Linked DNA regions of Homo sapiens. The protein of the gene in region 1 interacts with the protein of each later gene in a pairwise test. Each region holds a gene or a part of one and is shown on either strand. Other genes may lie near its edges.

Region 1 (3,174 bases):
TGCACTCAGTGATCGCAGCCCCTTAGAATATAAACCTATAGAAGAAGGAATTTTGCCTAGTTTTCATCACTGTATGCTCTGCATTTTGAAGAGTGACTGACACATTAGAGGCACCAAAATGTTTGTTGATTGAATAAATTAATTCTAGTTTCTAGACCTTTAAACATAAAGACTCAAAGTTTGTGCTCTGGAGTTGAATGAAGCTGTGTTTGTGTGACTTGCTTGCAACATGAACATGGATTAGTTTTTTAACTTATCTGAAGTTCAGTTTCTTTATCTGTAACATGGAGAAAACAATTGGACTTTATAGGGCTGAGACGAATAAAGAAAATAATGCTCTTAAAGTACTCAGGGCTGGGCACGGTGGCTCACGCCTGTAATCCCAGCACTTTGAGAGGCTGAGGCAGGAGGATTGCTTGAGGTCAAGAGTTCAAGACAAGCCTGGGCAACATAATAAGACCTTGTCTCTACTAGAAATCAAAAACATTAGCCAGGCGTGTTGGAACACACCTGTAGTACCAGCTACTCAGGAGGCTGAAGTGGGAGAATTGCTTGAGCTCAGAAAGTTGAGGCTGCAGTGAGCCATGATCATGCCACTGCACTCCATCTTGAGCAACAGAGCAAGACCCTACCTCAAAAATAAATAAATAAAATAAAAAGTACTCAGTACATTGTAAGTACTCAATAAATGTTATATGCCACTGTTATTATAACTACTACTATTATTATTATCATTGCCCTAATTCTTGTTATGAGGTCACATTGGTGTCATATTTCCAAACCCTCTTTTCATGCCATCTAGGCAGATTTCTGTATATTATTATGTTGATTTACATATTCTGTTTTGTTTTCTCCCAGACCCACTGGAATGTGACAACTCCCTAAATATTCTAAGTGTAGTGTCTGGAGAAAAGAGATGAGACCTGCTAGTGTCCGTCACTGTTCAAGACATTTTTTGGGGGGGTGCTGTGGGGGACGGAGTCTCGCTCTGTCGCCCAGGCTGGAGCGCAATGGCATGATCTGGGCTCACTGCAACCTCCACCTCCCAGGTTCAAGCAATTCTTCTGCCTTAGCCTCCTGAATAGCTGGGACTATAGGCACCCGCCACCATGCCTGGCTAATTTTTTGTATTTTTAGTAGAGACAGGGTTTCACCGTGTTAGCCAGGATGATCTCGGTCTCCTGACCTCGTGATCCACCCGCCTCTGCCTCCCAAAGTGCTGGGATTACAGGCGTGAGCCACCACGCCAGGCCAAGACATTTTATTTAATATAGTAACACATTGATTCCACAAAAGAACACTGAGGGATAGATGTTAATTTTTCCATTTACACGTGAGGAATTTAAACTGAAAGGTGAAATAATTGGTTCAGCATTATGCTCAAAACCAAAGCGTTGTCTGCATTTTTATTTAGCAGTTCTACTTCCGCAGTCTCTTAGTGGAACATTTTAATAATATTCTGCATTATAAAGTACAAAATTAGTTCCTATTCTCATTTCCTTTTTAATGTCGGGTTTCTTTTTGTAAAGTCTTTAGTATCTCAACTCTTCAGTTCTTACACCTCCTCCCTCAGATCTTTTGTTTCAAAAACTGACTACTTCAGGTTATTCTACTGTAAAGAAGGCTAAGCCTTCTTTTCCATTTGAAAAGGAAATAGATTTAATGGGAAAGAATATATAGTAGTGACTCAGATTTAAGATGCTTAATCTTATTTAACATGAACATGACTATACATGATAACTTAAAAGTATTTCTAAAGAGGGTATTCTACAAATGCACTTAATATTAATTTTCTAATTATTTGCATATATCTTTCTTTTAGGATCCTTCCTGAGCGTTTCCTGGCAGTTTTAAAACGAAAAATCAGTGTTAAGTTTGATGCAGTTATTGGATATAAAATGAAAGCGCAATAAGCACCTAGTTTTCTGAAAACTGATTTACCAGGTTTAGGTTGATGTCATCTAATAGTGCCAGAATTTTAATGTTTGAACTTCTGTTTTTTCTAATTATCCCCATTTCTTCAATATCATTTTTGAGGCTTTGGCAGTCTTCATTTACTACCACTTGTTCTTTAGCCAAAAGCTGATTACATATGATATAAACAGAGAAATACCTTTAGAGGTGACTTTAAGGAAAATGAAGAAAAAGAACCAAAATGACTTTATTAAAATAATTTCCAAGATTATTTGTGGCTCACCTGAAGGCTTTGCAAAATTTGTACCATAACCGTTTATTTAACATATATTTTTATTTTTGATTGCACTTAAATTTTGTATAATTTGTGTTTCTTTTTCTGTTCTACATAAAATCAGAAACTTCAAGCTCTCTAAATAAAATGAAGGACTATATCTAGTGGTATTTCACAATGAATATCATGAACTCTCAATGGGTAGGTTTCATCCTACCCATTGCCACTCTGTTTCCTGAGAGATACCTCACATTCCAATGCCAAACATTTCTGCACAGGGAAGCTAGAGGTGGATACACGTGTTGCAAGTATAAAAGCATCACTGGGATTTAAGGAGAATTGAGAGAATGTACCCACAAATGGCAGCAATAATAAATGGATCACACTTAAACTTTTGGTGTTTCCATCTTTTTGTCTTAAACAGAACATGACAACCTTCAAATTAAAGGAAAATAAATTGTGCAATCTTTTTTTAAAAACTGGAAATTTCTTGGATGTGAGGCTCATTGAGATGGGACTATAAGATCAGATCTATAAATTTAAAAATTTAGTAGGTTTGTTAGGTTTCTTCTACGAAAGAAAAATATTTTCAAGACTATATCAAACACGGCTGGTCACAGTGGCTCACGCCTGCAATCCCAGCACTTTGAGAGGTCGAGGTGGGTGGATCACAAGGTCAGGAGTTTGAGACCAGCCTGGCCAACATGGTGAAACTCCATCTCTACTAAAAATACAAAAATTAGCTGGGCGTAGGCCAGGCGCAGTGGCTCATGCCTATAGTCCCAGCACTTTGAGAGGCCAAGGCGGGCGGATGATTTGTATGCATATTAAAATTTGAGAAGCACTTCTTTGGAGCAGTAGCATCCTGGCCAACATGGTGAAACCCCATTTCTACTAAAAATCCACAAACATTAGCTGGGTGTGGTGGCGGGTGCCTGTAGTCCCAGCTACTTGAGAGGCTGAGGCAGGAGAATCACTTGAACCCA
Region 2 (3,500 bases), on another chromosome or scaffold:
ATTTTTTAGAAATGTTCAAGCATCAGTATTCAAGAGAACTCTTGAAAATTAAGTCTTCTAATGGCAGCATTGCTCAGGGATTAGAATTGAATTAGCACAATAGATCCTAGGATTTCTTCTTTATTCTGTTAGAATAGTTTAATTGTCTTCACTTCAGTTCCTCCTCTTTAAAATGAAAGTAAAATATGAGCCCCTCTTTTCTTCAGAGGAATGATGATATACATATAGAAAGTCTTAAACTCTGTCATTAAATTCAGTGGCGATACGATGGGGCTTTGTTTTGAGTGTAGATCTATTGTACTAAATGCCGTTGCTGCTTATAAATTGAATGTATAGTTTCACTACTTAATGGTTCAAGAGCTAAGTGTTATAAGGATAATTTTATAAACCCCAATTTCCCTAGAAACTGGTTTAGTCTCCTTTTAATCTTTTGATAGAGTAAATAACAATAGTATAGATGTATAGTTCAGAATTTAAAATCAATGTGAGTCGGTCTTGTTTTCAAAGAGCTTTAAAGCATTTTTCTCTGTGGTAGAAAAATAGAAATTCTAGATTTTTAATGATGAACTATATTTCTACATGTGTTGCTAATTTTATTTTTAGAAGCCTAATTTGAATGAATAAAATGTTATTGATGTTATTTCTGTATGAATGCATATATTTAATAATTTAATGAATTACTATATTATATGTGCATATATGATGTATGTAATTTTGCAGCACTAACATGTTGATTTAACTTGTATCTGTTTTTATTAATGCTTTGCTATTCTTTTATAGTCACTTCAGCTTTAATTTTTAAGATTAATTTTTTATCATATTTCAGGGAACCCATATTGAAATGTCTATTGGAATTATTTTGGGAATTTCAACTATGGCAGGTATTTAACAGTAGTAAATGTTATTATTTCATTGTACACTTATAAAACATTTCAGTAGATTAAGTTTAGAGGAGGGTAATTTATTTGAATGAGTTTACTCATTGAGATATCTGTTAATTTTCTTCATCCTATTCTTCTGATTCTTAGTTTTGTACATGTAGCACTTTTTCTGAAAATTTTAGGTACTTTATATTATTAGTTATTGGATAACAATACTCTGCTATATTGATTTCGTTAAGACAAGATTTTCTGGCAATTCAGTGTTACCCCTAAACATTTCTACCCTTGGTCTCTTTTATTTATTTATTTATTTATTTATTTATTTAGAGACGGGGTCTCACTCTGTCACCCAGGCTGCAGTTCAGTGGTGCAATCTCAGCTCACTGCAACCTCCACCTCCAGGTTCAAGGGATTCTCCTATCTCAGCCTCATGAGTAGCTGGGACTACTGGCGCCTGCCATCATTCCTGGCTAATTTTTGTATTTTTAGTAGAGACGGGGTTTCACCATGTTGGCCAGGATGGTCTTGAATGCCTGACCTCGTGATCTGCCCGCCTCGGCCTCCCAAAGTGCTAGGATTACAGATGTGAGCCACCACGCCCAGCCTATTATTTATTTTTTATTTATTTATTTTTGAGTTGGGTAGAATTTTTTTTTTCTTGAGTTGGGTAGAAAAATCAAAGAAGGAAATACAGGATTAAACATCTGTCTTCTCTGTCCCATTTACCACTCTATTCTTCACAGAGGTAAAATTTGGGAAGAGTTCTATGTTGTATTTATTGTAGAAAGCATTAGGTAAATGAGTTAATGAAAGAAACATATTTTTCTCCTTGACTTTCTTGAATTTCATAGCTGTACATGCAACTTTACCAATTCCTTTAAATATTATATGAAAGATACTACAAAATATTCTACAATTAATATTGAAACCAAAATGGAAATTGGCTGCCATAACAAAAAAACCTACTACTTAATGGAGGTAGAATAGCATAATTTCAAAATTGTGTTCTATTTCAAAACCTTGAGAGTAAGAGCTGTCCAATGAGTTACTTTGGATATGGTTGCTGTTGTTTGAGAAATATGAGAACTCTTCCAAGATCAGTGCTTTATTGATTACATAGTGATATAATTATTATTCTTTTATGTAACAATTATTTATTTTTCAAATTTTTAGCTGCTGCTTTGGGAAATCTTGTGTCAGATCTAGCTGGACTTGGGTAGGTTCATTCACTTATTCATTTGTATATTCTGTACTTGCTGTCTTTCTGTTCCCCACTCTTCTTTAATTGAGAAGCATAACAAAAGAATATTTCATTTTTCTTTGTTTTCTAGAATTAAAATTTCAAATTTACTTTTTCTAAACTAATAGTACTAAATCTTTGGTATCCATCAAATATAGATGCCTGGGTGATATCCCAGTTATACATTATTAGTGTCTCTGGAGAGGGAGCCCTGGCAGTTGTGTTTAGTAATTTTCATGAGTGGTTCTGATGTATGCAAAAGTTTATTCTAAATTTACCATAATGTAAGCAAAATGGAATTTGTGTTTACTGAAGTATTTATATGTATTTTATAGACATCTCCAAGGGTAAGACAGGAGTAAAAGGAAGAACCTCTCTCATTATTCCACCTCACCCTACTCCCAGAAAACCCAAAGAGAAGGGATATGGCTCGAATTTGAGGATACTGACTAGACATGTTTTCTAGAGGGGGGAACTTTCAAAGGAAATAATGGCCAAAGCATATATGGGTTTGGCTGTTTTTTGCTCTCTTTACTTTATGTGGCAGGAATAATGAAACAAACTAAGGACATCTATTTAGAAAAGGCCAGCTTTCTCTCTCTCTTTACATTCTTGTTCCAAGTAGCAGATGGCCTGAGTTGCTTCCTGAGCTTGGGGAAGCCTGGGGGAGTATAAATTAGACTAAGTGGACATTATTATGATAAATATGCTCTGTCTTGCTCTGTCTTTGATTTTGTCTCTTCTTTCCTTGACTCATTTGAGTGTTACAATTTCAGATTTGAATTTTTTCTTAGAAGTTTACTTAGCCCTATAATCTAGGCAAAGCAGCTTTTTAAGTGATCTAACCTTAACCTTTTATATTAGACTTCTGCACTGGAGTTTGGGGCCAAAGCCACAGTTAAAAACAAAGTTTCTTTGTTTTAGGACCATGGCAAGAATTTTATATTCTTCGAATTCCTGGCATAAATGTATCATGATATCATCTCTTAAACATTCTATTCCCAGTTTCCAACATTAAAGTAAATAATGAGAATATTACAGTCATTGTATAGCTTTCTGATATATTTAATAGAACCAAATGATCTAAGAGATTTTAAAGCCATTTAGCTATATATTGCATCATAAAACAATTGTTTTTGTTTAGAGATGAAGATTTTTCTGGAAGTCTTTGTATTTAAAAACTATTTCTCTTCTCTCTTTTGGGGGGTATCATTCAATAACAAATACCACATTTTAGGCATTCTCAGATGCATTTTAACGTATCTGATATCAGGATCCATCTTATTGTTGGTAGTATACATAGTTTAATTAGCAATATTTTTTCTTTCTTACAGTTCATAAAGTAAGGATGTATCCAATAAATGATGGCAACTTAGAAT
Region 3 (3,500 bases), on another chromosome or scaffold:
ACCCAGCCCCTATTCAAGATGGAGTCACGCTGGTTCACACAGCTCTGACACAACCACTTCCAGGCTGCGTGTGCGGTGTTGGGGGCTTGGATTCCGTGATGTATTTGTACATTCTCACCCCAAAGCCTTGGTTGTGTGCGAGCTCGGTGGGTGACGCTGTGTAGCTAGGTAGTGCCCATAAATGAATCTTCTTAGGAGCTGGAGACCGTTTGGGGATGCTGTGGTAGGGGCCAAGGGAAAAACATCCCCCTTTGCCATTTGAAGGTTTGCTGAAAAATCAACGCACAAAATACAATTGCCCTTTTTGAAACATGAATAAAGGAAATGACAGGCAAATGTATTCTCATCCATGGAGGAGAATGTCAGAGGAATTGCCCCATTACACAAAGGGGTACAGACGCTTGTGTCCTCTTCTTCTTAGCGGAAGGGGAGTGGGGAATTGGGGGTGAATATAGGATTCCAAATAGTAAATGATTTTAAAGAGAAGTCAATGGGTTTGAACAATGTACAGTGGCCCGAAAACAGATAATGTTTTTTGTTATTGTTGTTTGTTTGCTTGTTTTTTTTGAGACGGAGTTTCGTTCTGTGTTGCCCAGAGTGGAGTGCAGTGGCGGGACCTCTGCCCAGTGCAACCTCTGCCTCCTGGGTTCAAGCGATTCTCCTGCCTCAGCTTCCCGAGTAGCTGGGATTACAGGCATGTGACACCACGCCTGGCTAATTTTGTATTTTTAGTAGAGACGGGGTTTCATCACGCTGACCAGGCTGGTCACGAACTCTGGACCTCAGGTGATCCACCCGCCTCGGGCTCCCAAAGTGCTGGGATGATAGGTGTGAGCCACTGCGCCTGGCCTCAGATAATGGTTTATGACGAGTCTCTGCAGGGACAGAGGCTGTGGAACCCTCAGAACAGACAGTGGTTTATGAGGAGTCTCTGCAGGGCTGTTGACAGACATCAGTCTTTCCTCCGCGATGTGGGTTCAGAAACTCAGGGAAGGGGACACTGGTCATTTTTCCTTCTTTGACATGTCCAGACTTCAGGAAACTTCAGAGAACAACTTCATCCTGTGCATCGGGAGACACAGAGGAAGCAGGAGGGGGAAGTTAGAGAGATCTTGAGGCTTCTTCAGTTCAGCAGGACAAAGCACCGTACTTTGGGGTGTTGGTTTTTAAGACCCAGCAGCTGAAAGCTCCCACATTTCTGCAATGATCTTCGTTGTCGTGATGCATTAACTTCTTAAGCACTGCAAGATTTCATGCCCCAGCCATTCCCTTGGGTTTTTTTGTTTGTTTGTTTGAGATGGAGTCTAGCTCTATCACCAGGCTGGAGTGCCGTGGTGTGATCTCGGCTCGCTGCAGCCTCTGCCTCCCGGGTTCAAGTGATTCTCCTGCCTCAGCCTCCTGAGTAGCTGGGATTGCAGGTGTGCGCCACCATGCCCGGCTAGTTTTTGTATTTTTAGTAAAGACAGGGTTTCACCATGTTGGCCAAGCTGGTCTCGAACTCCTGACCTACCTCAAGTAATCTGCCCGCCTCGGTCTCCCGAAGTGCTGGGATACAGTAGTGAGCCACCGTGCCTGTCCTCCTTGAGGTCTTTTGAAGTGATATGTATCTGGGAGCTATAGATTTACTTTCTTTCCTATCTATCTCAAGTCGGGATACTAAAGTTTTAATAATTTGTTTACAAAACAAAGAAAGAACCTTGAGAAGCTTTTCTATTTCTCCCTTTACATTGCAGAATCGTCTAATTAGCATTTTTAAAAGTGTCTGCTTTTGAAACACCGCCACGATTCACCTTCAAAACCGCATGGGTTGAGGAATTTTCGGAAGAGCGATTCTAACTCAGCTTTCAAAATTCCTTGGGCGTCTACTGCTTGTTGAAGTTTCCCACCTCTTTCTGAGTCAGTTTAGACAGCTTTTCCCTTTAGGTAATTGTCTGTTTCATCAAGCTTTGGAATTAATGAGCTTGGTTACAAATTCTCTTTTCTCCCTGTTGGACTCCTGGCATTGCTCTTGATTTCGTCTGAAAGTCTCTCATGATATGAGCTGCCCGCCCCCAATGTGGACTTTTTGAGGGGATTAATTACTTCCCTTATTTTGCAGTTTGCTTTCTTATCAGTTGTTCTTCGAATCTCTCATTCCTCAAGCAAAGGAATTTCTTTTTTTCTTTTTCTTTTTCTTTTTTTTTTTGAGATAGAGTCTCGCTCTGTCACCAGGCTGCAGTGCACTGGCGCGATCTCAGCTCACTGCAACCTCCGCCTCCTGGGTTCAAGTGATTCTCCTGCCTCAGCCTCCTGAGTAGCTGGGACTGCAGGCACCTGCCATCAAGCCTGGCTAAGTGTTGTGTTTTTAGTAGGGACGGGGTTTCATTATGTTGCCCAGGCTGGTCTCGAACTCCTGACTTCGGGTGATCCGCCCACCTCGGCCTTCCTAAGTGATGGGATTACAGGCGTGAGCCACCGCGCCCAGCTGTACATCCCTTATTTTGCAGTTTGCTTTCTGATCTGTTGTTCTTCACATCTCTAATTCCTCAAGCAAAGGAATTTCAAAATATTAGTTATTTTATTAAGCACTAAGTATTCGCTAGCAATACACCAACACTAGGATACATTTCATCCTTATAAAACCCCCATGAATCCCTCAGAGAGTGACTTCAGTATCCAAGGAGAGCATTTGCTGTTTTTTTATTTTATTTAATTTATTTATTTTTTTTGAGACTGAGTCTTGCTCTGTTGCCCAGGCTGGAGTGCGTTGGCGCGATCTCAGCTCACTGCAAGCTCCGCCTCCCAGGTTCATGCCGTTCTCCTGCCTCAGCCTCCCGAGTAAATGGGACCACAGGTGCCCGCCACCACGTCTGGCTAATTTTTTTTTTATTTTTTATTTTTTTTTAGTAGAGACGGGGTTTCACCATGTTGGCCAGGATGGTCTTGATCTCCTGACCTCGTGATCCACCTGCCTCGGCCTCTCAAAGTGTTGGGATTACAGGCGTGAGCCACCACGCCCGGCCTCTTTTAAATTTTTTAGAGACCAGGTCTTGCTCTGTCACCCTGGCTGCTGTGCATTTTTTTTTTTTTTTGTAGAAACGGCATCTTGCTGTTCGCCCAGGTTGGTCTTGTGCGCTGGAATTATGACACAATCACTGGCTGCAACCTTGAAATCCTGGCCTCAAGTGATTCTCCCACCTCTGCCTCCCAAAGTGCTGGGATGACAGGCATGAGCCACCATGGCTGGCCTTGACATTATTTCTTTCTAAATATTTAACAAGCAAACTGCAACTTTAGCCACATGAATCATTCTTTAATCCTTTGATCATCATCTGCAAATTTGGATTAAAAATAACCACGGGGCATTGCTCGAGTGATACTGCCTTTATATAAGAGACAACATTGTGGAAACTTTAAAATTATAGAGCAGAAGAATATGCATTAGCCTGGAAATGAAATTAAAATAATGTAAGAATTTTAAAGAAAAGGCTATACAGCTGCAGTAGCTTGATGCTGTCTTT
Region 4 (3,500 bases), on another chromosome or scaffold:
ATAAAATAGGAGGCAAGTTTGCCTGACACAGTTACCAGCTTGACTTTTCCCTTTGGCTTAGTGATTTTGGGGTCCCGAGATTTATTTTCTGCATACTAACAAAATGCCTGGTTTTGCAAAAATATTACAGATTTAGCCAGTTCTGCTTAAGTTGTCTGGATGATAGCATGGTTTTCTGCATTTGTCAATAGAGACCACTTCTTGATATTCATTGTGTTTAAATCCATTTAGATCTAAAGGGTTATTTTGTGGAGTCTTACTTTGAATCTTTGCATTAAATGAAGTATACTTGAAAAAGAAGGATTTTTTTTTTAAACTTCTCATGCCTTCCTACTGAGAATAAAATTCTCTCTCTTTCTCTCATACACACACACCCTCCGCCCCCCCCGCCCCCCCACCGCCACACACACACACGGGCTTTATCAGAAGGGTTCTCAGTCTGACTTTGGTTGATTTAGCAACAGCAGTGTACTGAGGATAAATCTGGTGTTTGGTAAAGTCCTCCTGTGTGGTTGGCATGCTGGATGAAGGGCAGGGGATGTGGCTAGCGATCTCAGTAGAGGACCAGTGGTTGGGTAGACATGGTGGTCATTGTGGAGAACATTTTAGTTGCAGAGAGACCTGGGTTCAAATGCCAACTTAGTTATCTGTGAAACTCTTAGTCCCAGTCTCTTCTTTTACAAAATCTAGTTAATTACCTATTCTGTCCAATTTTTGAGATAATTATGTTATGAAAATTACCTGACACAGTTAAGTGTTCAATATTTGGTAGTTACTAATATTTTAAGCAAAACTCTGCAACTATAACTTCTGATACCAGCCTTTTTTTTTTTTTCTTTGAGACGAAGTCCCACTCTGTCACCCAGGCTGGAGTGCAATGGTGTGATCTCAGCTCACTGCAACCTCCGCCTCCCGGGTTCAAGCGAATCTCCTGCCTCAGCCTTCTGAGTAGCTGGGATTACAGGCACACACCACCACACTTGGCTAATTTTCATACTTTTAGTAGAGACAGGGTTTTGCCATTTGGCCAGGCTGGTCTCAAACTCCTGACCTCAGGTGATCCTCCCGCCTCAGCCTCCCAAAGTGCTGGGATTACAGGCGTGAGCCACCGCGCCCAGCCAATACCACCCTTTTACAGGCATAGTTCAGATATGCTAGTTCCATTCCAGATACTGCAGTAAAGCAAATATCACAATAAACTGAGTCACACAGATGTGTTGGTTCCCAGTGCATATTAAAATCATATTTACACTGTACTGTAGTCTTTTAAGTGTACAATAGCACTATGGCTCTAAAAAACAATGTACAGACTAATTTAAAATGCTTTATTGCTTAAAAATGCTGACACAGAGACATGAAGTGGGCATATGCTGCTGGAAAAATGGCACAGGCAGACTTGCTGGACACAGTTGCCACAAACCTTCAATACGTAAAAATTTAAAAACTACAGTTTCTGTGAAGCGCAGTACAGTGCAGTGTGGTAAAATGACATATGCCTGTATTTTCCTTTGTAACTTCTGACTAGTACAGCAGAGCTTTTGTATGTGCTAGTTAGCCAATAAATGCTGTCCACTGTTAATATAAAATTCTAAAATCTGGCCTAGAATTAATACTAATGTAAGTCACGTATTCATTACCAAGAAATTCATGAAAAACAAATGGTGTGTTTTAAAATTTCAATAAATAAGACTTTCAAAGGAATAGTTTCATTCATAACAAGCATTCTGCCCTGAATGCAGTAATTCTGGAGGCCACTGTCTTAGTCTGTTCTCAATGCTGCTATAAAGAAATATCTGAGACTGGGTAATTTATAAAGGAAAAAGGTTTAATTGACTCACAGTTCTGCATTGCTAGGTAGGCCTCAGGAAACTTATAATCATGGCAGAAGGCAAAGGAGAAGCAGGCACCTTCCTCACAGGGTGGCGGGATGGAGTGAGTACAAGTGGGGGAAATGCCAAATGCTTATAAAACCATCAGATCTTGTGAGACTCACTGACTATCACGAGAACAGCATGGGGGAAATTACGTCCATCTGGCCCCACCCTTGACACGTGGGGATTCTGGGGATTGCTGTTCAAGATGAGATTTTGGGGACACAGCCAAACAATATCAGGCACAGAAGGGGACCAAATCAGCCTGGAGTTTAGCACATTTCATGTGAGTCTGTATCATAGTTTGAATTAAATAGAAAGGGATTCAGTGTATTTTTGAGAACCTATGTTGTGTGAGGAACTAGAAAGAGAAATGACTACATGTAATGATGACCATCACAGAGGAGCTACAGAAGCCAGCATAAGGTGGTGGTTTGTGGAGATGGGGAATAGTTGACTCCTGGTGCTGGGAATTGCAAGTGCAATGGCATAGAGGTGTGAACAGCACACTAGGTCTGGGAGCATAGGGTGACACCGAGTCACTGGGGAAGAGATGTGACTAGAGAAATTGGCCTTCATGCCATTCAGGAAAAAAATTGGACTTTATCTCATAGACTGCATGTGTGGGTTGGGGGCAAAAGGAGGTGGGGAGCTTTGAGGCTTTAAAGTAAGGAAATAATGTCAAACTCACACTATCTTTTCCATGGCAGTGGAGGAGGCAAAAGTTGGAGTAGTGAGTGGGCAAGGCTGGATACACTTGCAGAGGTCTGCGTAGGAGTAGAGGAGGCCCAGATAGTATGGTGGTGATAGGAATAGAGAGGAGAGATGGATTCGAGAGCTTCCTGAGATAACAAGGTATGAGGGGGGATCAGGAAGAGGGAGTGGGTGGGAGGCTCCTTTGGGATGACCTGTAAGATTTTGGCTTAGATGACTGAGGAAGCAGCAGATGCAGATGAAGCAGCCCTTGCTGGCCTGTTGAGTTCAGGGAGCTTCCTGAAGAGTGAAAAGAAGGTCAGTAGACACTGAGGTTGATGACTCTAGACCTAGAGGCAAGAGTCTGGGCCATGATGAGCCTCTGACTGGCGTTAATATGGAGCTGGGAGGTGAAAACCACAGTGCCTTGGAGTGCTCTCGGAAGGCACATCTGTCTTTCAGAGGAAAGACTCTCACTGAGGCCAGAAGCTTGAAAAGCGCCCATTTGGGATAAGCGGGAGAATAGGGGCAGCAGAGAACGTCTACAGAAAGGGCGCTCTTGGGGAGCGAGCTACATACTGATTCCATAAAATTTGAATGGCACACATTCTTGGCTAAAAAGGAAACTGTCTTGGTAAGCTCTAGTTTGTTCAGTATTGTTTTGGCATTTTCAGATAACGAAATGCAGGGACTGTTAACATTAGTATTGTACCTCTGTTTATTTTCCATTTTTATCCCCAGTGACGGAATAGCGTATTCTTAATTGTACCCTTGAGATGAAATGAAATAATACATTAAAAAATACATTGAATTTCCAATATATGTTTATAATACAAGTTTTGTTCTTTGAAGATCTTACTTTTCTGTTACTTGGATATTTTACTTTTTATTCATCATTGAACTGAAAAACTAGTAGGCCATGTTGTAGAACAGTGA
Region 5 (3,500 bases), on another chromosome or scaffold:
ATTTTAATTGAATCCAGTTTAGCAGTACATTTGTTGAAAGATATTTTTTAAAATGAACTTAAAGCATTAAGACAGGAAAACAGGAGAAATTGATTTTTAAAAATTAATATTTATTTTGGCCAGTCACGGTGGCTCATGCCTGTAATCCCAGTGCTTTGGGAGGCTGAGGTGGACAGATCACTTGAGCTCAGGATTTCAAGACCAGCCTGGGCAACATGGTGAAGCCTGAAATTCTGTCTCTACAAAAAATACAAAACCTTAGCCTGGCATGGTGGCAGCACATCTATAGTCCCAGCTATTCGGGAGGCTGAGGTAGGAGAATCGCTTGAGCCTGGGAGGTGGAGGTTGCAGTGAGCCAAGATCGTGCCACTGCACTCCAGCCTGGGTGACAGTGAGACCCTGCCTCAAATAATAACAATAATATTTATTTTCTATCTTCTGGAGTATATTTGAAGTTGACTGGAGGAGGATAAGAATGATGTGCTGGTAGACATGATAAATATGTGTCCATTTAGTCCATTTTATGTGATAGACTTTGTAAGAGCAAACGATGTTTTCTTTTAAATAGTGACTTCTCTGAAATATTTTACACTAATCATCTCACTTTTGTTGAAACTTCCTTTGGCTTCTATAGGATCACTTTCACCGGCATATATTTCTGACCTTCTCTTTCTTCTTATGGGGTCTTCCTTCTCTTTTCCTCTCTTAAATATTTCTATTCCCAAGGTTCTTTTCTTCATCTCTTCTTATGCTATGTATTCTACCTAGGTTACTTCATCTACCCATATTTTCAGTTTCTACCTGTAGAATAAGGATGCTCCTATTTATTTTTATCACCAGATTACTTTGCACCTTAAACCAAACAAGTATAAATGGAACTTATCTTATTCCTGATTACTCCCTTACCACCCACAATCTGATCCTCTGGCTTCACTACTAATCTTATCTAAAGGCCAAGCCAGACAGCTGAATGTTAATGGTAAAGCAATTAATATACAGGTTGAGCATCCCTAATCAGAAACCCAAAATAGAAAATGTTCTAAAATTAGAAACTTTTTTAGCACCAGTGTTGTGCCACAAGCGGAAAATTCCATACCTGACTTCCTGACAGGTTGCAATTAAAATGCAATCAAAACTTTATTTCATGCACAAAATTATTAAAGATACTATATAAAATTATCTTTAGGCTGTGTGTGTATGATGTATATGAAACATAAATGAATTTCATGTTTAGACTTGGGCCCTGTCCCCAAGATATCTCATTATGTATATGCCGATATTCCAAAATCCAAAACAATCCAAAATCTGAAACACTTCTGCTCCAAAGCATTGTGGATAAGGAATACTCAACCTGTAATGTATAGTCCAAACAGGCTGTTTAGAGAGTAAAATGGAGCTTTGGTAATAACTACTACAAGAGATTAGGTATAATCAGAACCATCGTATGCAAACAAGAATACAAGGTCACCTAAGTCTTAGGATAACTTCTTTTCCTTTATATTCCATATCCATTTGCTCAGAGCACTGTCTTCTACTGCTTTACTCTCAACTTGATCCCCATACCCTCATTTTTTCCTCAAGTAAATTACTCAGATAAATCAAATAGTCTTCTTGATGCTTCTCTACCCTTCTCCATTCCAGCTTGGCAGAGTGATGTTTTAAAAATGCATGTTTGCTCAAGTCATACTCTAAGTCATTCAGTGATCATCCATTGCAGTCATGGTAAAATCCAAGTTTCTTGTGTGACATATAAGACCAGTTGATAACAGTGCAGAAACAAGGAGACTTCACCTTGTCTCAACCATCTCTAAATAGAGGCTATACACTAGCAATAAAGAAAATCATCTTGCTCTCATTTTATTGTTTTGGCTTAAGCTTTTCTACTATATTTTCTTTTCACCTGGACCAAGTACTCTTTTGTTTTTAAGAGACTGGCGTGATCATAGCTCCTCCCACCTTAGCTTCCCAATAAATTTGAGGACTGCAGGCACATGCCACCACACCCGGCTAATTTGTTTTTATTTTAATAGTGATAGGCTCTCACTATGTTGCCCAGGCTGGTCTTGAACTCCTGGCCTCAAGCAGTCCTTCTGCACCATCCTCCAAAAGTGCTGGGATTACAGGCATGAGCCAGCATGCCCAGCCATTTTGTTTTTCTTACAGAGACAGGGTCTCACTCTGTTACCCAGGCTGGAGTGCAGTGGCATGATCATAGCTCACTGCAGCCTCGAACTCCTGGTCTCAAGTGATCTTCCTGCCTCAGCCTTCCAAGTAGCTAGGACTATAGGTGTGTGCCACCATGCTCAGCTGATTGACTGATTGAGATGGGGGTCTTGCTGTGTTACCCAGTCTAGTCTCAAACTCCTGACCTCAAGTGATCCTCCTGTCTCAGCCTCCCAAAGCATGAGTGAGCCATAGTACTCAGGGTCTACTTTTATTTTTTTTGAGATGGAGTCTCTCTGTGTCATCCAGGCTGGAGTGCAGTGGCGCAATCTTGGCTCACTGCAACCTGCACCTCCCAGGTTCAAGCAATTCTCCTGCCTCAGCGTCCTGAACAGATGGGACTACAGGCATGTGCCACTACACCTGGCTAATTTTTGTATTTTTAGTACAGATGGGGTTTCAACATGTTGGCCGGGCTGGACTTGAACTCCTGACCTCAGGTGATCCACCTGCCTTGGCCTTCCAAAATGCTGGGATTACAGGTGTGAGCTACCATGCCCGGCCCAGTCTCTACTATTTTAATACCTCTCCCTCCTTCCTGCTCTGCCTGATTTCCTACAGCAAAACTGTCCCTCCAGGAATCTACACAACTCCCATGCTGCATTCTTTTATCATGTGTTTGTCATTGTTTTATAATTAGCAGTTTATCTCTTTATGTTTTAATTTTTGTATCGCTAAGAACGTATTTAAATGTTTGCCGAATAAGTTAGTCCTTTTTTTTTGAGACGGAGTTTCACTCTGTCACCCAGGCTGGAGTACAGTGGCACGATCTTGGCTCACTGCAACCTCCCCCTCCTGGGTTCAAGCGATTCTCCTGCCTCAGCCTCCTGAGTCGCTGGGATTACAGGTGTGCACCACCATGCCTGGCTAATTTTTGTATTTTTAGTACAGACAGGGTTTCACCATGTTGGTCAGGCTGGTCTCGAACTCCCAACCTCAGGTGATCTGCCCGCCTCGGCCTCCCAAAGTGCTGAGTGTGAGCCACCACGGTTTAGATGCCATCCCTGTACCACCACCACCCCCTAACCGTGTTTCAAGTTGGTTGACCATGGACAAATGATTGGTAATTGACATTGTATAGAAAAGCAAACTTCTGATTTATTTGTTATTAGTTCACCACACTAAAAACTTAATTAGCCATCGGAGTTGCAATTACATGACTCCAAATTTAAGTTTCCTTTGAATATAGCCACATTAAACCAATTAAAAATCTGAAGTACATATTGAATGCCTTTAAAAATGAGAAAATGGACCTAATTGTTACACCCGGTTAGAAA
Region 6 (3,500 bases), on another chromosome or scaffold:
ACTTTGTGAGTATACTAAAAGCATACTGAAAGTATACTAAATTGCATACTTTTAAATGGGTCAGTTTCATGGCATATGAATTACATCTCAAAGCTGTTTTTAAAAGTGGATGTTATAGAAACAAAAAAAGTGTTTCAGCAGAAACTTACAATAAACCTTGTATGACCAGAGATAATGGGTGGCCTCCTTATGCACTGCCTTCAGTGAGGAAGGAACTAGGGGAATTTCTGGCTAAAGGTCACTGGAGTTTTTCTCATCATGGGAAATGTATGGAGACGTGTGTTTAGGTCTCCTGAAGAGTGGAATGTGGAGGACCACCCATAAGACTAAAGAGCACTGGCTTGATCCAGTAGGATCTCTGCCTAACCCAATATTCTGTTTATGAGAACAATTCGACAGGGTGGCAATGGCTGTCCTCCATGACATTGCTTTAAATGTTAGGAATATCATGCCAATTTTCTCAAATCCTTTCTCTTAATACACTATAGACTGTTAACTAATAAATTTATCTAACTCCATCTTGAATCAATTTCTGTGTCAGCATACTCTAACAAATTCCATCTGCATCCTACTTTGCTTTGCATGATTTTGCTCATGCGGAGGCAGAGCCTGGTTTAGAGATCCTCAAGGGCCTCGTATCTCTGATTCTCACCACCCCCTTTTCCATGATGCTGTCAAAAGCTTCTTTTGAGCAGAATGAAAAGTTTCCAATTCTCCTTTATCTAAAAGTCTTTTGCTTCTACTGCCTTTCTTGAGTCTGGGCCCTGGTTCTAGCTTGGAAAACCAAGCTGATCTGTATCGTGTACTGGTATTTTGGATATATAGTCATGGGTTTCTGGGGCATCATTTCAGTACGCACACATGACAGCCTTCAATAGGTTTCAGAACTTGATCTCGTTCAATTTTTTTAAATCATGATACTGAGATCCATAAAGAAGAAACATATGTCCAGGGTCACATAGCTAGGCAGTGGCAAGACTAAAAGTGATACATGTCTTCATTCCCAACCATTCTGCTTTCAGAACTACCAGGCTGCCCCCCAGACCCTCTGTAACGCTCATCTCAGCACTTTCAGCCTCCTTCTTCTGGTTTTCTTTGTGGGTTGACCTAGCACTTACCTCACCATCCTGTCTGGTCTCTTCTCCTTCATCCTGGTCAAGTTCAAACTCCGTGCCCCGGTCTACAACATCCACACCAGCATGCACCCTGGGCTTCTCATTTTCCCATTTGGCAAAGCCTTTGTCCTTTGCTGCTTTGTCATGGAACTTGGATTTCATTTTAGGGAAGGTGTGGGACCCCGAGTCCCCCCAGCCAGCCTCTGACCAGACAGGTTCAGTCTGGGTGGCCTGGCTGGTGGTGGCCCTCTGTAGCCTCACAGAGATCTTGCGAGAAGAGCCTGTAACCAGTGTGATGGCTCTGCTGTCTAAATCCCTGTGTCCAGCAGTGACTCCAGGGAACTCAAACACCTCATCCTGCGCTGGAAGTGAAAAAGGGTGGTGATTATTTGACATCTGACTGCTTGACAGCAAAGCATCAAGGTTAGTGCAAACAGCACGAGTCTGGCATGCAACATTCTAGAGGAACCGACAAGGGACAGAACTCAATTAGCCGCAGGCAAGTTACATATTCCTGAGACTAGAAAGCAGAGAGAAGCAAGGATGATTCAAGGGTTTAGCTACTGCTGCTCACCCTAAAGAAGGCCTTAGCGTTTAGAGTGACTGACCGGGTTTAGACCCAGAACCTAAATGAGGTCCAAGTGTGAGGAGGCAAGCAGAAAGAGACCATGGCAGCAAAGAAAGCAGAGGGCATTACCTGGGGGCAGCGAGGGGCTTCCAGGCAGTGACCCATGACCACTGCTCAAGGAGGGCGCCCGGGCAAATCTCCTGCAGGCCAGAACCAGGAGGTCTTTGCACTGTTTGTGACAATTGGCTCCACAGTCTGAAAAATTCCAAGGGTGTCGCAGATGATTAGTGTGTCTGATGTTGATTCAGTTTCCAGGGTGGCACTTGATTTGTCAGCCCTCCCCTCCCCCACCCCAGTTTCTGTGTTGAATTTCAGAGTTGAGCTCAGGCCCATGGGGTGTGTCTAGGATCTGGAAAGAGGCCATTGGTCTGCACTTGCCTTCCTGAGGTTCCGAAAATTCTCTTAGATTTGCTCAGCTTGGTTCTGTATGCAATTGAGGACCTAATGAGCAATTGTGCCTAGGGAGTAAATAGAGTCCAGCCTGAGAGGTCAGTTGCCTTTGCCCAAAACTAAATGCAAATCAAATGGGGTTGAGAGTCTTTCCCAGGCTTAGACGGAATCCCCACAAAGAGAGCCTATGCCAGCATTAGGGCAAGAAGCCTCAGCTTCTAGTCTCTCCCAGGCCAACTGCCTCTGATCATTTACTGTGAGGTGTTCCTCCACTCAGCACTTGTCTGGATTTTTTTTTTTTTTTTCGAGATGGAGTCTCGCTCTATTGCCCAGGCTGGAGTGCAGTGGCGGGATCTCGGCTCACTGCAAGCTCCGCCTCCCGGGTTCACACCATTCTCCTGCCTCAGCCTCCCGAGTAGCTGGGACTACAGGTGCCCGCCACCACACCTGGCTAATTTTTTGTATTTTTTAGTAGAGACGGGGTTTCACCATGTTAGCCAGGATGGTCTCGATCTCCTGACCTCGTGATCCACCCACCTCAGCCTCCCAAAGTGCTGGGATTACAGGCGTGAGCCACCGTGCCCGGCCTTGTCTGGATTTTTTTACTCTTCTTCATTTTCCAAAACCTTTCAGGGCCAGTGATTATATCTTCTGCTTCCAACAGAACACAAGATGGGCATATGCTCAGTAAATATGTTCTATATTTGCTTATGGCTTTGAAACAGCGTGCAGCAGAGTCTGTGAATTGCCCATTAGGATGTTTTAGATAAGACAGTAGAATGTTAATTACTACTTGGGGTAGAAAAATGTGGCCACTTCAGATGGTGGTTCACAATTATTTCCTATGATGAGGGTCCTGCACTTCACTGAGAATCATTGAATAGAGATGATCATTTCTCTCCTACCATCAAGGAGGACCTTTCTAACTATTTCCAGTACCCATTTTCCCCTAAGTGACCTTGTTTCAAATAGTCTTAATGATGTATTCAATCTATTTCAATTCATTTTTTTTTTCACTTTATGTGCCATTAAGAAAATACAAGAGATAATCCAAAGGTGTAATAGATTTTCATCTTTATAAAATTGCGTGTGTGTGTGTGTGTGTGTGTGTGTGTGTGTGTGTGTATTTTAGGGTATGAGGATAGAAACCAGAATAAAACTAATGACTCACTGCTGGGCAATAAGATCTTGCAGTATCTTTGCTGCTTGAAAGTAAAAATCTAAGTTAGACCAAGGCAAGTGATAGAGAAGCACTAATGGGAAGGTCCCTCTGAGCACTAAACAGTGGCTTCCATTGAGATTTGGGAAGCTTTTTGTTCATGCAAAATGAGGACGAAATACTGGAAAACGACTGGAGAAAAAAGGCA
Region 7 (3,500 bases), on another chromosome or scaffold:
TTATTATTATTTAATAAATAACCTACATGGTACTGGCATATAACAGGCAAGATAAATGGTAATATTATAATGATTCACATTTTTATATTTATTTATTGCCATGATTCTAACATCTGTGTCTTTTCAGACTACCATTAACACATATTAAATTTCTCTGGCTACAGTAAGGTTGAATAGGCCCCCATATCCATGTGACTTTTGTCAAAGGGTATAATGTATGAATATTAAGGAAAAGACGCCATATATGCCATTGAATAAATCACCATTTCAGCATACTTTTGCCATATTTTGTCAATAATTTTGCATCTTCACACAATAACCCAATAAAGCAGTGCCATGGTCACTGAGATGGGTGACTATCGGAAGAAAAATGAATTCTATTATAAGACTCTGTGTGAATTAAACAATAACATTTATTGACCATCTTCTTTGTGTAGGTACTGTAGTAGAGGCTTTCAGATATGTTATCTCGCTTAATGTCACAAAAACCCCTTAAAATAGATATTATTGTTCCCACTTTATAGATAGAGAAATTGAGGTTCAGGAAGTTAAAGAGATTTGCCCAAGCCCACATATGGTGGAGATACATGCAATGCAGGTATATATCAGCAGGTGTATAACAGCCATCAAGTCTGGAACTAAATATACTCTAAAAGCCCAATCCACAATAAAAGAGACTAAGCCCTTCTCTGGGTCTCTCTTGTAATTCCTGTCCCTTTCTCCACAGTGTTACTCATTCTCACTCAAGTCTGCCATATCCATTACCTACACTAAGTTATTACCAACAAGCACAGCTAATGCAGTATTGGTCTCAGTCTGTGGCTGGATTCCAGAGATGGTGGGAGAGGGTTAGACTTGAGTTACCTGCAGAAAATTTGCCCTCTGCTCCACAAATCACAATGGCTTTTATTGTATGGTCTATTACAGCTTTCTGTAGTCCTTCTTTTATGTCACGGAGTAAAGTCGTACTAAAAGAAAACAAAATACATGAAGTAAATCAGTCAGAATTAAATTCCTACCATTCAGAGTGTTTTCCTTTCCTAAAAATGAAAAATTAAACACACACATAATGGATAAAAACTGTAGATACTTCTCAATAAAGCTTCCAACAAATAATATGTCTACTATGACTATTAAATTTCTTCTACAAATAATATATATGCCTATGATTAATTAAGCACTGACCAGATTAAATTAATCCACTTTTTAAAAATGTAATTTTCCTGCACTGTGCTTTCACTTTGACCGCTTAAAATTGACACCAACCAATTTAAAAATATTATTACATGTCTTCTATATATTGTACAAGGAGTTATCCAATACTTGTACATAATTTATCATGTAAGGCACACTAAGATATCTGAGTGCTGTAATAAAGGTACAAAGAAAAAGTGATGTTGAAGTTCAGAGAAGGGTGAAATTACTTTCAGTTTTTCATATTGTTAAAATATAAGAAAATTAAATGAGAAACAGTCTAGGAGCTGTGGCGGGGGCTGTGAGTTACCTCAAATATCCATTCCTCTCCATCGTCTTCATAGTATTAAAACACTTGGTTTTTACTTGAATATATGTGATATGGTTTGGCTCTTTTTTTTTTGAAATGGAGTCTTGCTCTGTCACCCAGGCTGGAGTGCAGTGGCGCGATCTGGGCTCACTGCAAGCTCTGCCTCCCGGGTTCACGCCATTCTCCTGACTCAGCCTCCTGAGTAGCTGGGACTACAGGCGCCCGCCACCACGTCCGGCTAATTTTTTGTATTTTTAGTAGAGACGGGGTTTCACCGTGTTAACCAGGATGTTCTCGATCTCTTGAGCTCGTGATCCACCCACCTCGGCCTCCCAAAGTGCTGGGATTACAGGTGTGAGCCACCGCGCCCAGCCTGGTTTGGCTCTTTATCCCCACCAAAACTTCATTTCAAACTGTGATCCCCACGTCAGGGAGGGACCTAGCGGGAGTTGATTGGATCATGCCAGTGGTTTCCCCCTGCTGCTGTTCTGTGAGGGAATTCTCAGGAGATCTAGTGGTTTATAAGTTGCAGTTTCCCCTGCACTCATGCCTCTCTCCTGCCACCTTGTGAAGAAGGTACTTGCTTCTCCTTTGCCTTCCACCATGATTGTAAGTTTCCCCAGGCTTCCCCAGCCATGTGGAACTGTGATCAATTAAGCCTCCTTCCTTTATAAATTACCCAGTCTCGGATATGTCTTTATAGCAGTGTGAAAATGGACTAACACAAAAATATGGTTGCCCAAAATAAAGACTATATTTTCCAGCCTGCTTTACAGTAAGGTCTGCACAAGGAACTAAGTTCTAGCCAATGGGATGGAAGCATATTTGGTATATGCAACTTTGGGGAAGAGTTCTTAAAGATTTGGGTATGCTTTTCCCTTTTTCTTTCCTCCCTATTCCTGGCACCAGTGATGGTTAGATCAGGAGCAGCCACCTTGGATCAGGAGGTAGAAGCTATGTATTGAGGATGGTAGAGCAAGAGATAGACAGAGAAAATAATTGAGGCCCCTGTTGATTGTGGAGCAGCTGTATCATTCCAGGGCACTGCTGTGAGAGAAATTAGCTTTTTATTGTCTAATTCACTATTATCTTCACTATTCTGTCAGTGACAGCCAAGCGTAATCTTAACTAAGATAAGATATAAAGGCAAGATAGTGGAAAGATAGGGCATGTAGCAGATTTTGCCAAGTTTTAATATATGAGGAAGTCATCTGCAGAAGAGATAGCTAAAACCAAGACTGAATGAGTCTACCAAAGGAAAAGAGAGCTGAGGGCAGATCCTCTGGATATATCTTCATTTAAGAAGTGGGACAAGCTCAGCAGAGTGATTCAGCAAGTGAGCTCAAAGTCACAAAGACCAAGAGAGAAAATTTGTGAAGAAGGAGGGGATTAATAAGTACCAAGCAATAAGAGAATCTAGGGCAAGTGGTGAGGAACTGCTTAAAAGGAAAAACCACAGAACCAGATTCCAATCAGTTTTGCCTTGGAATTCCAAGTATTCTGAGTAAAATCTCTGTTCTTTAGTACACAGGGTTAAAAATAAATTTTAAAACAAAACAAACAACAACAAACTTCTGTAAAGGCCATATTGTTAAGACCAACAACTATTAGTTAAAACCCCAAGAAATAAAAAGGATACTTGCCCTTATTTATAATGATTCCCTTACACCTAATTACTTTTCACCTCTTAACCTAGATGAAATCAGACAAAACCTCTTGGCTTCAGCTGGTTAATTAGAAGCCAAATCTGACCATGAAAAGCAAATTCAGAACCATTATATAACATCAAAAAGTCCAAAAGGCACACATTTCCTTCTGAATAAACAATGCTTACAAAACTAGCCAAAATTAGCTCAATCAGTGCCACTGAGGAGAAGAAACCAGCTTTTCCCATTTCAACCTATCTTCCTTTTTTATGTTCATAATTTTGCAAATATCAAAAACAGGAAAAAAATGAAAATAGCTATAACAGATACGCACTTTACTAGATTCAAGC

What was found.
Region 2: the proteins of HSD17B11 (region 1) and TMEM65 interact in binary tests that used the Homo sapiens proteins (3 or more experiments, as listed by UniProt).
Region 3: the proteins of HSD17B11 (region 1) and DHRSX interact in binary tests that used the Homo sapiens proteins (3 or more experiments, as listed by UniProt).
Region 4: the proteins of HSD17B11 (region 1) and UNC50 interact in binary tests that used the Homo sapiens proteins (3 or more experiments, as listed by UniProt).
Region 5: the proteins of HSD17B11 (region 1) and ORMDL1 interact in binary tests that used the Homo sapiens proteins (3 or more experiments, as listed by UniProt).
Region 6: the proteins of HSD17B11 (region 1) and RASGRP3 interact in binary tests that used the Homo sapiens proteins (3 or more experiments, as listed by UniProt).
Region 7: the proteins of HSD17B11 (region 1) and EHHADH interact in binary tests that used the Homo sapiens proteins (3 or more experiments, as listed by UniProt).

Annotation. Positions count from the first base shown.
Region 1 is NC_000004.12:87,336,015-87,339,188, reverse strand, and holds the end of HSD17B11 (estradiol 17-beta-dehydrogenase 11 precursor), read left to right. Parts: intron 1-1,822; coding exon 1,823-1,913; 3' UTR 1,914-2,674; downstream 2,675-3,174. UniProt on the Homo sapiens protein: Can convert androstan-3-alpha,17-beta-diol (3-alpha-diol) to androsterone in vitro, suggesting that it may participate in androgen metabolism during steroidogenesis.
Region 2 is NC_000008.11:124,320,702-124,324,201, reverse strand, and holds part of TMEM65 (transmembrane protein 65), read left to right. Parts: intron 1-826; coding exon 827-881; intron 882-2,054; coding exon 2,055-2,097; intron 2,098-3,500. UniProt on the Homo sapiens protein: Essential for maintaining proper cardiac intercalated disk (ICD) structure and function as well as cardiac conduction velocity in the heart.
Region 3 is NC_000023.11:2,238,977-2,242,476, reverse strand, and holds part of DHRSX (polyprenol dehydrogenase), read left to right. Parts: intron 1-3,500. UniProt on the Homo sapiens protein: Oxidoreductase that plays a key role in early steps of protein N-linked glycosylation by mediating two non-consecutive steps in dolichol biosynthesis.
Region 4 is NC_000002.12:98,611,589-98,615,088, forward strand, and holds part of UNC50 (protein unc-50 homolog), read left to right. Parts: intron 1-3,500. UniProt on the Homo sapiens protein: Involved in the cell surface expression of neuronal nicotinic receptors. Binds RNA.
Region 5 is NC_000002.12:189,777,840-189,781,339, reverse strand, and holds part of ORMDL1 (ORM1-like protein 1), read left to right. Parts: intron 1-3,500. UniProt on the Homo sapiens protein: Plays an essential role in the homeostatic regulation of sphingolipid de novo biosynthesis by modulating the activity of the serine palmitoyltransferase (SPT) in response to ceramide levels.
Region 6 is NC_000002.12:33,556,649-33,560,148, reverse strand, and holds part of RASGRP3 (ras guanyl-releasing protein 3), read right to left. Parts: intron 1,939-3,500; coding exon 1,813-1,938; intron 1,478-1,812; coding exon 1,119-1,477; intron 1-1,118. UniProt on the Homo sapiens protein: Guanine nucleotide exchange factor (GEF) for Ras and Rap1.
Region 7 is NC_000003.12:185,247,550-185,251,049, forward strand, and holds part of EHHADH (peroxisomal bifunctional enzyme), read right to left. Parts: intron 969-3,500; coding exon 865-968; intron 1-864. UniProt on the Homo sapiens protein: Peroxisomal trifunctional enzyme possessing 2-enoyl-CoA hydratase, 3-hydroxyacyl-CoA dehydrogenase, and delta 3, delta 2-enoyl-CoA isomerase activities. Catalyzes two of the four reactions of the long chain fatty acids peroxisomal beta-oxidation pathway.